2 separate regions of the Homo sapiens genome follow, and region 1 is linked to region 2. The links come from fine-mapping of genetic effects on gene expression. A gene starts in region 2. The other region holds a variant in brackets. All regions are shown on one strand. Distances are between the middles of the regions. Region 1 overlaps HLMR1 (hepatic lncRNA metabolic regulator 1). Region 2 holds the start of HLMR1 (hepatic lncRNA metabolic regulator 1).

Region 1 (5,381 bases), 18 kb after region 2:
TTCCTCTATCACGCTTTTCACGTTAAATAAAGCAATCCCTTCAAATCAATTTTCTGTCATGTCTAAGATGTTATTATTTCATGGTATGGGTCAGGGGTCTACAGACTTTTTCTGTTAAGACCTAGATAGTAAATATTTTAAGCATTTCAGACCATACAATCTCTGTTGCAACTACTCAGTTCTGCCATTGTAGCACTAAAGCAGCTATAGACAATACATAAATGAGTGAGCATGGCTGTGAGCCAATACAACTTTATTTATGAATGCTGAAATTTGAATGTCAAGTAATTTCATGTGTCATAAAGTATTACTCTTCTTTTTTTTTAACCATTTAAAAATGTAAAAACTATTCTTAGTGTGTGGGCTGTACAAAAGCCGGCAGAGAGCCAGATTTGCCTGGGAGTTATAGTTTTCTGACTACAGTATACTTTATGGCCAGGAGCAGATTCAGGTTTTGTGGGGACTGAGCTCTTTACAATTAGGGGGCCCTCTTTAAGAAAAGGAATGCAAGACCAGGCATGGTGGCTCACGCCTGTAATCCCAGCACTTTGGGAGGCCAAGGTGGGTGGATCACAAGGTCAGGAGATCGAGACCATCCTGGCAAAACAGGGTGAAACCCCATCTCTACTAAAAATACAAAAAAATTAGCTGGGCATGGTGGCGGGCACCTGTAGTCCCAGCTCCTCAGGAGGCTGAGGCAGGAGAATGGCATGAATCTGGGAGGCTGAGCTTGCAGTGAGCCGAGATAGTGCCACTGCACTCCAGTCTGGGTGACAGAGCGAGACTCTGTCTCAAAAAAAAAAAGAAAAGAAAAGAAAAGAAAAGGAATACAAAATTACAAATATAAAATTAGATACGGTGCTTTGGAAGAGACCCATGCAAATGAAAGGCCCTGAAAATTGAGCCTCTTTGGCATCCTGGTGAATCTACTTCTAGTAACACTTGGACAATCTTGCTGCAAGGGTTCCCTGAACTGGCTGATCTTTGGAGTCACCTAACTACAGGTTCCAAAGCCCCAACAGGTTGCCTGAATTAGAATCTCTGAGGATAGAGCCTGGCAATCAGCCGTCTTGTAAAGCTCCCTAGGTAATTGTACTGTGAACCCAGGCTTGGCAACCACTATTTTAGTAACCATTTTATAACATCAAACAAATTCATTTGAACTGGTATCACAAACACACTCATTGCCTTAGTTGTGTTGCTTACCCAGAAATAGGTTTTAACTATTGTTATTGACCCATAGCCTGAATGTTTACTTATCAAGAATACCCTATTGTTCAATGACCTCAACAGAGAATATATAGATAACTTATGCTAGGCCATCTATCCCCTTTCTTTTTAATAAGAGTCAACACATATATAATAAGTTGGGTCTTCACCATTTGGGCTCATTTTAATATTTTTATGTATTAAATTTTATTTTAAAAACTATTGGTAATTTTTAAAAATCTTAAATCTTTGAGTTGGCATACAATTCAGACAATCTATAAAGTAAATAAATGGCTGTTGAAGAACATCTGACACTCATGATACCACAGTTGGGAGAGTCAAGTTTATAAACCTAGACATAAAGGTAGCAGTTGAGTCACTTGTTATTGCCTGATTAATCATCAAATGTATAGAAGACTCTTTTCATATCCCCTTATTATGCAACCTTTGTACTGTTCAAATTTAATATTATTCCCACAATGCTGAGATATCTTCTTGGTCAAAATTGAGTAGTTCTGTCTATAGAGTAGGTAGCATCTATTTTTGGCAAGATAAATGTGAAACAATGTTACTTTTAGTAAACAAATGCCTTGTCATTGCCAGCAATAAAGCTCTAGTGTCAACCAAAAGTTTCATTTTAAGGGTTGAGGAAAACCTATCCCAACTTTTTCAAATTACCTTTTTTAATAAGGACTTGAGAATTTCATATCCCAGAAAACATGCAAATATCAATTCTTCTAATTTTGTTCACTTATCGGAAGGCAAAACTACTTACTTTCCTGACTCAGAAGCACAAACAGAAAGTAAAGAATACTTCCTGATACATTGATTTTAACTGTTACTGGGGCAGTATTGACATAAATAGAAAATGAAGCTGCTTTTTTCATTGTTTGGAGGTTTCGTTTTTAGAAACTAGGGCAATATTATATCAAACTTGTTTCCTCCAACAAGGACTCCCACGTCTAGTAATGTATTCGTTTGTTCATTCATTAATTCATGCAAATATTAAATAAGTGCCTATAATGTGCCACATACTGTGCTGGGTGCTGAGGATCTCACTCTGCAGCCTGAGAACTTAGGTTCTAACAAGGAAAGGGAAACAATAAGCAACGGAATTTCACGTGGTGATATATGGTGTGTAGAAAGTAAAACAGGGTGAAGCCAGGTGAATGTACAT[G/A]TATGTGGGCATGAAGGGGACAGAGGCAACTGCAGCTGTTTTTTTCTTCTTTCTGTTTTAGAGATAGGGGTCTCACTATATCCCCAGCCTGGTTCAAATTCTTGGGCTCAAGGCCTCTAGTAGCTGGGACTACAGGAAGGAGCCACAGCTCCTGGAGAAGGGGAAGGGGAACCTACTTTAGATAAGTGGTCAAAGGTGGTGGTGACATTTGAGTTGAGATCCAAACGGTGGAAAGGAGCTGGGCATTCATATGAAATGGGAGAGTTCTCTGATCCACCTGCAGGATGTGCAGCAGGGTTGTGGCTCGCCTGTTTGGTTACTGTCACTGCTCAAACCCCTGACAGGAATGGCAGCATGCAGACGGGCAGGTGCAGGAGCCAGGGCAAGTGCTTTGGGCTCTGGCCCTGTGGTAGTGTCTAGGGGTGGGTGCCTGTGCTCCCGGTGTTACAATGCTCTTTCAGCCTTGCTGTCCATGGACAGCTTAAGTGTTAACCAGCTCAATGGATGCTCTACTTTTTTGCAAGGGCAAAGGGCCAGGGTGACAGCTTTCTATATCCTGAGCGCTTGCCTAGCATCCCAGAAGAATCTGGTCACACACAGGCTTGAAGGATGAATGTAGGGTTTTATTGAGTAGTGGAGGTGGCTCTCAGTAGGATGGATGGGGAGGTGGAAGGGGGATGGAGTGGGAAGATGATCGTCCCCTGGAGTTTGGCCATTCAGCAGTGGAACTCCTCTCTGACCACTCCCAGCTGAACTCTTGGCATTCAGATGTTCCTCCTCTTCTTTTTCTCTGCTATGCCATTTGTCTGCTTGTCTCCCCGTCTCCTTGTTGGCTCATCTGCTTCTGGAGCCCGGGGTTTGGGGTTTCTATGGGTACAGGACTGGGGAGCATCGTGGGCCAAAAGGTAACAGAAATGCCTGTTCCTACTTAGGGCTGAGAGTCTCCAGGCTTAAGGGTAGGGCCTTTGCTGGGGAACCATTCTCTTCTACCCCGTATTTCCCTGTCTCTTGTCCGTATCACAGAGATCTTAGGGAAGAGATATCTAGAGCTGTGCTGTCTAGCACAGGGGAGACTGAAGCTCTTGAAATGTGGCTAATGTCACATGTTGAAGTGATATTTTGGATATAGTTGCTTAAAGAAAACATTACTAAAATCAATTAAACACCTAACAATTGGCAGTATCTTTGCTGGATTCCTCATTACCAACATTTCTAGCACTCAATCTAAGTATAAGCACTACAACCCTGTCACTATCTCATGCTTGAAACAAATTAACATGGTTAACACCTATAATTCCACTAATTCAATTCATCCAATTGTTTGTACAGTTTTACACTTTTTTGTGGCTTTAGAAAATTAAAGAAATACATACATGGTTTACATTATATTTCTGTTGGACATCACTGGTCTAAAGAGAAAATCTTAATCCAGTTCTTGCACACAGGTCCCTTGGATCCTCATGGATTGGGTGTGTTATGAGTTTGACCTAGGCCAGGCACAGTGGTTCTTGTCTGTAATCCCAGCACTTTGGGAGGCTGAGGTGGGAGAATTCTCTGAGACCAGGAGTTCGAGACCAGCCTGGGTAACAAAGTGAGATCCCCGTTTCTACAAAAATTAAAGAGTTTGAGCTAATAAAAACACTAGCTACAATGTACTGAACAGTTATGGTGCGCCAGGTGCGGGGCAAAATTGCTTTACATCCATTCATTGTATCCTCATGCTGTGAATGGAAAGGGGTCCAGATCCAGACCCCAAGAGAGGGTTCTTGAATCTCATACAAGAAAGAATTCAGGGCAAGTCCATACAGTAAAGTGAAAGCAAGTTTATTAAGAAAGTAGAAGAATAAAAGAATGGCTACTCCATAGGCAGAGCAGCCCTAAGGGCTGCTGGTTGCCCATTTTTATGGTTATTTATTGATTGTATGCTAAACGTGGGGGGGGGGGCGTTATTCATGCCTCCCTTTTTTAGACCACATAGGGTAACTTCCTGACGTTGCCATGGCATTTGTAAACTGTCATGGCACTGGTGGAAGTGTAGCAGTGAGGACGACCAGAGGTCACTCCCTTTGCCACCTTGGTTTTGGTGGGTTTTAGCTGGCTTGTTTACTACAACCCGTTTTATCAGCAAATTCTTTATGACCTGTATCCTGTGCCGACCTCCTGTCTCATCCTGTGACTTAGAATGGCTAACCTCCCGGGAATGCAGCCTGGTAGGTCTCAGCCTTATTTCGCCCAGCCTCCTCTATTCAAGATGGAGTTGCTCTGGTTCAAACGCTTCTGACAATACCACTATGAAGTAAGAAATACTTCCCGCTCTATTTTACAGATGAGGAAATGGAAGATGAGAGGCAGAGTAGGTTGCCTAAGGTGATAAGAGGATGAAATAACGGCGCGAGAAGTCGAACCCACTCCAGATCCGCCCATGCAAGACACAAGAAGCCACAGGAGGAGGAAGGGGCAGGCGGGAACTTAGAGCACCTTGGCGTGCCCAGCCCGGCGCCTACTCCCTCTCCTCTGCGCCGCTGGAGGCCTCGAGTTCGTGTCCTCTCGGCGCCTGCCTGGCTCCCCTTCCGAGGCCGCAGCGCCCTGCCATGCTGGCCTCCCCGCGCTCTCCCTGAGACCCAAGCCGACTCCCAGGCCGACCCCGCCGCCTGCGCCCAGCTGTGTCGGATCTACCTGCCCGCGACCGAGGAGCTCAGGGACTGCCCCAGGAGATGCTGCCTCGCCCGACAGGCGCCCCGGCCCCTGCCACGCCTCCCGCGCCTGGAAAGCACGACATCCCGCAGGCAGCATATCTGAGCCTGCATCGGCCTGCGGGAGTCCAGCCCGAGCCATTTTCCTGCCTGTCCCCACTCCTGACAGCCTGTGCCCAGTTCCCCTCAGCTCTCCCATGGTTCTCCAACGGTCCTTTCTGGGAACCCTTACAGCTTGGAGATCGTCTCACGGTGACCAGGGTGTTTCTGAGTTGTGTGTGTGTGTGTGTGTGTGTGTGTGT
Region 2 (5,381 bases):
TTGTTTCAGAGTTCTTAGAGATTCTGGGGTTTTTTTTAAGTCGTTTTTTCTCTGTGCTTATCAGTTTGGGAGGTTTTTACTGAGATATCCTTATGCTCAGAGATTCTTTTCTCAGCCATGCTCATTCTACTAATAAGCCCATCAAAGGCATTTTTCATTTCTTTATTATTGTTATTATTTGAGTCAGGTTCTCACTTTGTCACCCAGGCTAGAGTGCAGTGGGGCAAACATGGCTCACTGCAACCTCGACCTCCCAGCTTCAAGTGATCCTCCTGCCTTAGCCTCTCAAGTAGCTCGGACAACAGGCATGCCACCATGCCCTGCTAATTTTTGTATTTTTTGTAGAAATGGGGTTTTGCCATGTTGCCCAAACTGGTCTTGAACTCCTGGACTCATGATCTGCCCGCTTTGGCCTCCCAAAGTGCTGGGATTACAGGCATGAGCCACCATGCCCAGCCTACATTTTTCAATTCTATTGCAATGTTTTTGATCTGTAGCATTTCTTTTTGGTTCTTTCTTAGAATTTCCATTTCTCTGCTTACCTTGCCCATCTGTTCTTGCATGCTGTCCTCTTTATCCATTAAAGCTGAGCACATTAATCATAGTGGTTTTAAATTTCTGGTTTGATAATTTCAACATCTTTGCCATATCTGAATCTGGTTCTGATACTTGTTCTGTCTCTTCAAACTGTGGGTTTTTTTTTCTTTTTTGTATGTCTTGTTTTTGTTTTTGTTTTTCTTTTTTGGATAGCAGGAATGATACGTGTCCTGGGTAAAAGGAACTGCTGTCAACAGGCCTTTAGTTAGGTGGTGGTAAGATCTGTGGGGAGAGGAAGTGTTCTCCTCAGTCTTTCAGTGAGCCCATTACTCTGGATTGTGAACTTCATGTGCCTCTAGGTCCCTTCCCCCACCTCACCTTAGGTGGGACAGGATGGCTGGAATGGACTTGAGTTGGATATTTAACCCCAGCAGGTCAGGCTCTGGTTACATAGTTTCTCCTGAGGACAGACCTTGTTAAGAACATAATGCTCTAGCATATTTCAAAATGGCTCCTTTTCCCCTCCCACTGCTGGAAGCAGGAGGGGATTTTTTTCCCTAATATTCACTGTGAGACCTGGTAGTGCTCCTGGAGGTAAAACCCACAAAAGTGTGGGGACCTCTCTATGATTCAGTTCCCCTGGATTTTTATCTCTCAGACTTGTTCACACTTGTCTGAGAACTGGCTCCAGCAATTCACAGTTACAAGTTCAGACTTTTCTGTGCCAGCACTGGTTCCCATGGAGGTTTCTGCTCTTGAAGTTGTGATTCTCTGTATTTGCCTGTTGGTCTTCCCAATTTTGGGGGAAGCAATTTGTCCTGTGCCATCACTTCTCTTATAGAGCTAAGAAGAGTTGTTGATTTTTCACTGCTTTTTTTTTTTTTTTTTTGAGACAAGAATATCGCTCTGTCACCCAGGCTGGAGTGCAATGGTGCAATCTCGGCTCTCTACAACCTCCACCTCCCAGGCTCAAGCAATTCTCATGCCTCAGCCTCCCGAGTAGCTGGGACCACAGGTGTGCACCACCATGCCTGGCTAATTTGGTTTTTCAGTTTGTTCAGCTTTTTACTCATTAGGACAGAGTGGCAACTTCCAAATTTCTTACATGCTGAACCAGAAACTGTTTTGTTAGTTTTTTAGGATTCACTTTAAGTCTTTTCCTCCAGGGAGACTTCCCCAACTTTCAGGTCTGCATTAGGGACCCCTATGATGTGCTCCTGTAGATGCTTTTTGTTTCCCATAGCTTTTATACATATTGTGATTGTCAATTCACTTGTCAGATTCCCCCGTTAGACTGTTGGCTCTGTGTGGAAAGGACGGTTTGCCTTACTCATTCCTGTATTCTCAGCACCATCCATCAATGCCTGACATATAATAGGTATTGAATAAATATGTGTTGGGTGAATAAATGAATGAATGGAAGAGCTTATTCTCTGTAATTACAAATAAATTAGAAGCAGCTGTTAAATATAATTCATTCATTCAATCAATCACTATTTACTAAAAGCCTATCATGTGCCAGGCACTAGGTTAAGAAACTGATGATGAAAAAGCCACATAAATATGGAAACATGTTTGTAACACAATCTAATGAAAAAAAACCAGAATACATGTATGTACACCATAATTTAAACTCTTTAAAATATGTAGGAGGCAGGCTGGTATTGCACAGTGGTTTTAAGATTTTCTATTTTTAGTTAAAGTCTCTTTCTTCAAATGAAATCTTAGAAGGACAATGTATAAAACATAAAAAGCAAGATTTTCTGCTTGATGCGGGGGCAGAGGCCAGAGCCTGCCTACCCTTTTCCTAGTCTGCTCTCCTGTCTGTCCTCTGTGCTACTGCCACCTTCCCAAGCCAGAAGTAAGCCACTGTGGCACCTTCACAGAGGATTATTTGAAAATTCCCAAAATAGACTTCTGGTTAAACATTGCAGTTTAAAAACCTGTGTTTTTCTTTCATCTCTTTCAAAATGCTACTAAAATGACAGCAAAGAAGCCAAAAAGGCCCAAGTCCACAAGACAGAAAGAATAGGTGAAAAGTCCATGTCATCTCATTTTTGGAGATGGACATGGACAGGGGCTGAAACTGCAGTACCAGCAGATGGGGAGCTTAAGAAGGAAGCTAGTTCATGGCACAGCACCCGTAAAGTCCCCAGAATTGGAGGCACCAGATTCTTCTGAAAGAAAAGGTAAGAGGCGGAGCTGAAAACAGGAGGTTTATGGAAAGTCCTTGGAGAAAGCAGTCAGACCTCTGGATTCCTTCCTCATCTTTCAGCAGCCTCTCTCTTGTCCTGGCAGAAACCAGGTTTACTCTCTTGGGAAACTCAACCACAGGAGGATCTGGGGACACAGACCGGCGAAGGATGGTAGAGATGCATCACTGAACTAGGAGAATTAAATGATTGGCTTAGGGTTGGGAATGCGACCTCAACTGGATCAGTTGAGGCCATCCTTGGCATTTTTAAATTCTGAAGCTGGAAGTGTGGGGAGGATAGTGTGTGTATTCTGCAGGTGTTGAGGTCCTTGTTCTAGTCCTTGAGATTCCTGGCTCCGACTGTTTCCTGTAACTCTTTAATTCTATGAAACACCCAGTATTCTTCTATTTTATTCTGCTCAGGCTGCATTAACAAAGTATTACAGACTGGGTGGCTAAAAATGGGAATTTAATTCCTTGTGACTTTGGAGACTAGAAATCTGAGATCCAGGTGTCATGGAGGTTGGTTTCACTCTGGAAACTCTCTTCTTGCTTGCATATAGGCCTCCTCTCTGTGCCTTCACTTGGCCTTCCCTCTGTGTGTGTCTTTGTCCTAATCTCACTTTCTTACAGGGACACCAGTTAGATTAGATTGGGATCCATCCGAATGACCTCAATTTACCCTGATTACCTCTTTAAAGGCCCTATGCCAAATATGGTTATATTTGGAGGTTCTGGGAGTTAGGACTTCAACACATGAATTGTGGGGGGACAAAATTCAGCCCACAATGCCTTCTACTATTGCCAGCAAATAAATAGCTTTTGAGATAACTTAAGAGATTTTAAATTTAGTTTCTGGTGCTTGCACGCAAAGAGTTCTGACTTATACTATTCACTTGCCTCTTGGATATTGCCTTTTGTCCATTATAGTTGTCATTAACTGTTATTTAAATCCGCATTACCATTCACCTTTTCCTATGTTTCTGTTCCTTAAGATGGGAGGTAGATCATAGTTTGCATAGCCCATGGAGTCAGATGACCAAAGTTGTAAAGTTCTGTTTGCTGGCTGCCTGATCTTGGTGAAGTTCTCTGTGCCTCAATTTCCTTATCTGTAAACTGGGGATGGTGATAATAACAGATATTCACAGAGTTGTTGTGAAGATTAAACGTCTTAATGAATGTAAAGCACTTAGACCAACCTGGCTTATGGCGAGTGTTACATAAGTTCATGCTATCATTTATTCATTCAGTAGTCTCTATAGGGAATAGCCATGTGCCATGGATGTGGTAGATACTTAGTAAATATTCATTCTCTCTTGTTAATGTATGTGTTATAATAAGTGATTCTCAAAGTTATCTTCAAATTCTTATTACTCTGTATATTGTTATCTGCCAGTGTAATGATATCTAAAGCACATATCTTAAATACTTTAAACAATCTGATATAACAAACAAAGATAGAGCCATTTTCTTCTACATTGGAAGCTGTGCTGTGTAGGATGAGAGACTGGGGTGGAAGTAGGGATTGCAGGCTTCTGGTCCTGGCTATACCCTCACACTGTGAGACTCTGAACAAGCCTATACTCTCTGGGCTCTGCCTCCTTTATTTACACACCAAGGCTGGACTATGTAAGCTTTAGGCTCTTTAATGTTTTATATCACTTATCTTTGAAAGGCCATCTTAGGTGAGCTGCTCAGAGTCTTTAAAAGCTACATTTCCCCCTCCTTTCTTACTTTAAATATAATGGTAATTAAAATGTTTCGGAATTATATATTAGATGCATTTCGGGCATCAGTTACAAGAATGAGAAAGAAATTATTAACAGTTGGCAAAGATTAGTATCAGTTATAGTATCTTGTTATAAGTTTAGAATTTTATTTTCTAATGAGTAACCTCTCCTCCACCACACAAAAAACTAGTGTGCTAACAAAAGAATTAAAAAATGGGATTTTATTTGATTGGATTTTAACTTCTTGGCCATTCTTAATATTTTTGGAATAGGCTTTTGAGTCCTGACCTTCTAAGTCAATTTGTTAGTCTGCATCTGTAGTGTCTCTGGCACGGCTGGGAAGTGGTGGGGGGCGGGGGGTGGGTGGGTGCAAGAAAAGTAAAATATATGATGTTCACTCTTGACCAGCCTATTTTGTGCTGTGAACACCCACACTTGCACACAATACTCAGACATATTAACACATTTGCATGCACTCTCCAATATGTGCAAAGTAACATCACATTCCTTCTTTCATTCAACAAAAATGTGTTGATTGCTCACTCTGTTCCTGGGGATCTGTGTGAACCAAGACAAAGTTGACACTGTAGTTAGATATACCTCTCTGAATAAAAGAGTAAGTTTAAGGTAGAGTGAGGGTTAATTCTCTGTTTATAAGCCTCATGGGTGAATTCACACCGAGCAGCAGAGGGCAGTGTTCTCAGACAGGGCAGCTCTCCTGAGGATCTGCAAGGAAGCAGGGCGTGCCTTGTGTGACTGGTGTTGTCGAGCAGATCATTTTTTAACACCCCACTACTCCATACAGCATTATTTTTGGTAATAATAATGAAATGAATAAAAAGAAAAATGGACTGAGAGAGATTTTTATTTTATTGAACTTCGTATATGTAATCATTCCAATAAAAATGAAAAATAAAATA

Evidence for each region. PIP is the estimated chance that this variant, and not a neighbour inherited with it, causes the effect.
Region 1: its variant is the best candidate, but not a certain one, in a credible set for the expression of HLMR1 in liver (GTEx, PIP 0.88).

What each region holds. Positions count from the first base shown.
Region 1 is chr3:142,942,488-142,947,868 of GRCh38, forward strand. HLMR1 (hepatic lncRNA metabolic regulator 1) reads left to right here. Exons shown (of 5, transcript NR_038455.1): 5 at 1-49. Among named protein-coding and RNA genes, the nearest start is that of PAQR9, 18 kb to the right of the region's middle. The variant G/A (reference allele first, on the strand shown) is at 2,387.
Region 2 is chr3:142,924,171-142,929,551 of GRCh38, forward strand. It overlaps HLMR1 (hepatic lncRNA metabolic regulator 1), which reads left to right and starts at 2,505. Exons shown (of 5, transcript NR_038455.1): 1 at 2,505-2,726. RefSeq lists an enhancer at 4,997-5,291.